2 separate regions of the Homo sapiens genome follow, and region 2 is linked to region 1. Evidence: fine-mapped expression QTL. Tissue or cell type: whole blood. Region 1 holds a variant in brackets; the other region holds the start of a gene. All regions are shown on one strand. Distances are from middle to middle.

What was found. PIP is the estimated chance that this variant, and not a neighbour inherited with it, causes the effect.
Region 2: it holds the start of CCDC125, and the variant in region 1 is fine-mapped to the expression of CCDC125 in whole blood (TOPMed, PIP above 0.99). The same link has a PIP of 0.9 or more in caudate, hypothalamus, nucleus accumbens and sun-exposed skin.

Annotation. Positions count from the first base shown.
Region 1 is chr5:69,284,995-69,287,755 of GRCh38, forward strand. CCDC125 (coiled-coil domain containing 125) reads right to left here. Exons shown (of 12, transcript NM_176816.5): 11 at 343-473. Among named protein-coding and RNA genes, the nearest start is that of CCDC125, 46 kb to the right of the region's middle. The variant G/T (reference allele first, on the strand shown) is at 1,476.
Region 2 is chr5:69,331,548-69,334,047 of GRCh38, forward strand. It overlaps CCDC125 (coiled-coil domain containing 125), which reads right to left and starts at 1,254. Exons shown (of 12, transcript NM_176816.5): 1 at 1,102-1,254. It also overlaps the pseudogene CHCHD2P2.

The DNA of each region.
Region 1 (2,761 bases):
GCTGAGGCAGGAGAATTGCTTGAACCCGGGAGGTGGAGGTTGCAGTGAGCCGAGATCGCGCCGCTGCACTCCAGCCTGGGTGACAGAGACTCTGTCTCAAAAACCAAACAAACAAAAAAACCAAAAAACAAACAAAACAAAAAAATACACTAACACTAATGATAGCTGATGAACTAAAAAAATATATATATATATCAAAAAGATCTCATAATGTTTTAAGAAAGTTTACGAATTTGTGTTGGGCCACATTCAAAGCTGTTCTGGGCTGCATGCTCCCCACGGACCGTGGGTTGGACAAGCTTGGCTTAACCATAACCTGCAAAAAAAAGCAAAGACACTAACCAAATCTATGAGCATCTTAAGGACCTCTTGAGGACTGTCCTGGTCTTCCATCCTCTTAGAACTGTTTTCTGAAGGGAGCATACCCAACAGTCTCTGCCCGAAGGTCTTCTTACTCCTTGGTGATGGAAATCCTAAAATTGAACATGAGAATCCAGCTGAGACATTAAAATATCCTCACTGATATACTTCCAGCAAAAGAGGTAACTTGATCTCTAGGACAAGTGAGTCCAGGAGCACACAGTGGAATGTAGTGAGCAGAGCACAGCCTTCAGAGCCAGGAGCAATGCAGGTGAGAGGCAGCAAGAGTGCCGCCCTGCCATGCGGCACAGCCACCCCTCTGTGCCAGCTGACACACAGGCCACACAAGAACACAGTCCATGTCACTGGATCATCACAGTCTTCAAGAGCAGCCAGAAATGCAGATCTGTCATGACATCTTCCAATTCTAAATGTCAGCCACTAGTCTTATTGTTTGACTACACTAAGCCAACCTAACAAAACATGTCTGCAGGCCACAGGGGGCCTCTGAGCCATGCAAACTCTGCTTCCGAACAGCAAAGACCTGGACTTGAATCCTCATTCAGCCACTTACTAACTGTATGACCTCGGGTGACTTTTCTCAGCTTGATTTCCTCATCTCTAAAATGAGAATAGCATTACCTTCTTCTCAGGGAACTGTGCCATTAAATAATAAATCACACGGGCTGGAGAAGGGGAAGTGAGGAGTTACTGTTTCATGGGACAGGGTCTCTGTAAAGAAAGATGAAAATGTTCTGGAGCTGGATGGTGATGAAGGTTACATTACAATGTGAATATACTTAATACCACTTAAAAACAGTTCAAATGGTAAACTATATATATATATATATATATATATATATATATATATATATATATAATTTTTTTTTTTTTTTAGATGGAGTCTTGTTCTGTCACCCAGGCTGGAGTGCAGTGGCGCAATCTCGGCTCACTGCAAGCTCCGCCTCCCGGGTTCGCGCCATTCTCCTGCCTCAGCCTCCCGAGTAGCTGGGACTACAGGCGCCCGCCACCACGTCCGGCTAATTTTTTTGTATTTTTAGTAGAGATGGGGTTTCACTGTGTTAGCCAGGATGGTCTCGATCTCCTGACCTCAT[G/T]ATTCGCCCCCTCTTGGCCTCCCAAAATGCTGGGATTACAGGCGTGAGCCACCGCGCCCGGCCAACTTTAGATATATTTTACCACCATCACGACAACAACAAAAAATACCACAATTGTCAAAGGCCCTGCTCAGGTATTAGCATAATATTTAATATTTCACGTGCTGACATCATTGATGTCCTTCTTCATCCATTGAAGGAAAGTAATTTGCAGAAGTTATAAAATCTCAGATTGTACAAGGAAAATTTCAAGAATGTTTTTGGAATATTCTCCAAAAGTGGTTTAGTGGGAAACTGAGAGCAGATGAGGGGAGATCCCCTTCCCACCAATCCTGACAGACCACAGTGACGAGGGCGGCCCTGACCCCTTCCACGAGGAGCTGTGGCAAACAGAAGTCAGAGAAACTGACACTTTGATGAGTAGATGAATCTGTGTCCCTATTTTCAGTCTAAAAAAAGAAATAGCTTGGTGTGATGGCTCAAGCTGGTAGTCTGGAGGATTGCTTAAGCCCAGGAGTTTAAGATAAAAAAAAAAAAAAAAAAACCCAAAAGCAAAAATACAAAGAAAGAAAGAAGTATGCCTATAAACTACTTCCGGAAACTTGTCTAAACTGCCATATCAAAAAGAAAGTTGATATTAAGTGTTACTAAACATAAAATAATCTGTATCACCCTGTACCTCTTAAGATTACTGAAATATACTAATAAAATGAATTAAAGTCTTGTCACTGAGAAACTGAGAAAGAACTACTCAAACTTGTATAGATTTATAAAAGCTGTGCGAGATTAATCAATTTTTTTTTTTTTTTTTGAGATGGAGTCTCGCTTTTGTCGCCCAGGCTGGAGTGCAACAGCGCAATCTTGGCTCACCACAACCTCTGCCTCCCGGGTTCAAACATTTCTCCTGCCTCAGCCTCCCGAGTAGCTGGGATTACAGGCTTGTGCCACCACACCCAGCCAATTTTGTATTTTTAGTAGAGACAGGGTTTCTCCATGTTGGTCAGGCTGGTCTCAAATTCCCGACCTCAAGTGATCCACCCACCTCAGCCTCCCAAAGTCCTGAGATTACAGGCGTGCCACTGCACCCGGCCATCAGTTTTTGGTGGTTTTTTTTTTTTGAGACAGGGTCTTGCTCCATCACCCAGGCTGGACTGCAGTGGTGGGATCATGACTCACTGCAGCCTCAGCCTCCCAGGCTCAAGCGATCCTCCCACTTCAGCCTCCCTAGTAGCTGAGACCACAGGTATCTACCACCACACTTGGCTATTTTTTTTTTTTTAATAGAG
Region 2 (2,500 bases), 46 kb after region 1:
AATAAAAATAAAAATAATGTATCCAACTGAAGTGTCACCCTGTTTTCTACAACAAAGCTACAGTTTTCACCTCCAGTTTCATCTGGCAGTACTCCCTGGATGTACTCTGCGCTTCCACGTAAGAGGAACTGCACTTGCTCCCAGGGCTCCTCCCTCAGCTCAGCTTGGTCACCTGCAAGCCTCTATTGGTGCCATTCTTCACCCCAGGAATGCTGTTTCTTCTCAGAGCCCCCTCAGTTCAGGACAGCACTCCCTCCAGTAGCCTTCCTGACTCCCTTGGACCAGATGTGATTTCTTCCACATCTGAGTCTTCCCAGTTCTGGGAGGTTTTACTGAATCTTTTTAATAGTGCTTACTTCCTACCTGACCTAGACTGACTGTATATTCCCTTATGCAGAGACTTTGTGTGTCTCGTTTGCTTATGCACAACATGTGTTCCAAAGATATTTGACAGAATCGAAAGAGAAAACCGATTCCTGCCCGGAAACCTTTGGACAGAAGAATCTACATTCAGTAGCCTGACAACTCTGCCTTAGCAAACAAGTTGGTCAAACATGCCTAACTCCATGACAAAGAGGAACTAACTTGAGCCCTCCCTGGTGAACAATGGCCTGCTGCACTTTGCTTTAGGATTTTGTTTCTTAACTTTTCATTTTAGAATAATTTTAGATGTACAGTAAATTGCAAAGATAGTACTAAGAATTCCTGTGTACCTTTTACCCAAATTCCTCTAATGTCAACATTTGTGTACAATTTGTCGAAATTAAGAAATTAACATGGGTACGTGCTATTAACTAAACCACAGCCTTTATTATTTTTTCCACTAATGTCTTTTTCTGTTTCAGGATCCAAACCAGGATACTGGCGCTATAGTTTTATAAGGCTCAAAATTAACAGAAGAGAAAAAAAGTAAAGCAGGTGGAGAGGCAGAGAGAGAAATAGGGTCTCTGAAATCTATTTCTTATTTTTTTCTTATCAGACGAGGCCATTAAACTGGCATTCAGGGAAAAGGATTTGGGCAGTTTGTCCACAACCTGCAGAGTTTCCACGAATCTGCGCATCCCGCCCCTGCCCTGGGTCCTCCCCACTCCCGGTTCCCACCTGCCAGGTCTGACCCCGGGTACCCTCTCAAGGTCCGTGGCGGGGACCGGAGCCCGGACTCCAGCTCAGCGAACAGCACCCTCCTACCGCCCCGGCGCCCCACTCAGCTCGCTCACCTGGCAAGTAGCCTCCTCTCCGTGCGCGTGCGCCGCTGCCGCCGCGCGTCCTCCGGGCCACCACGTGACCGCGTGGGCGCAGTCCCAGACAGGAAACGCCGGTGAGGTCGCCCTGGGCCATGGAGGCAGCTCGCGCTACTTTTTCGCGACCTCACTGTGTTCCTGTGTGCAACCTGATGTTAGCTCTGTCCACCTTCAGCTCCAAAGCCAACCACGGGTAACCAATATGCAAACAATGACATGAGATTTAGAAAAACAACAAGACGGGGCCTGTGTCAATACAGGTAAAATTTGGTGGTTCAAACATTGAGGTTCAGACCGGCGCGGGGTTTCACACCTGTAATCCCAGCTTTTGGGAGGCCAAGGCGGGAGGATCGCTTGAGGCCAGGAATTCGAGACCAGCATGGCCAACATAGTGAGACCCCGCTCTACAAAAAATTTAAAAAGTAGGGCTGGGCGCGGTGGCTCACGCCTGTAATCCCAGCACTTTAGGTGGCCGAGGCGGGTGGATCACGAGGTCAGGAGATTGAGACCATCCTGGCTAACACAGTGAAAACCCTTCTCTACTAAAAATACAAGAAATTAGCCGGGCGTGGTGGCGGGTGCCTGTAGTCCCAGCTGCGCAGGAGGCTGAGGCAGAATGGCGTGAACCCGGGAGGCGGAGCTTGCAGTGAGCCAAGATCGTGCCACTGCACTCCAGCCTGGGCAACAGAACGAGTCTCCGTCTCAAAAAAAAAAAATAATTAAAAAGTAGCGGGTGTGGTGGTGCGTACCTGTAGTCCCAGCTACTCAGGAGGCCGGGAGGCCGTCAGGTGGGAGGATCCCGTGAGCCTGGGAGATCCAGGCTACAGTGACCACTGCACTCCAGCCTGGGCGACGGAGTGGAGACCCTGTCTCAAAAAAGAAACAAACCAAAACCAAAATATTAAGTCTCTAGGAATCCTGTAAGAGAAGGGTAGATCGGGCCAGGTGCGGTGGCTCACGCCTGTTAACCCAGCACTTTGGGAGGCCAAGGTGGGTGGATCACCTGAGGTCAGAAGTTTGAGACCAGCCTGGCCAACATGGTGAAACCCCATCTCCACTAAAATACAAAATTTAGCCGGTCGTCACACGTCCGGAGGCCGAGCCGTCGCGTACCTAGGATGCCGCGTGGAAGCCGAAGCCGCACCTCCCGCATGGCCCCTCCGGCCAGCCAGGCCCCCTCAGATGAGAGCTGCACCCAGGCCAGTACCAGTCGTTCAGCCACCAGCAGCGGCACCCCCATCTGTAGTTGGCTCTTCTGC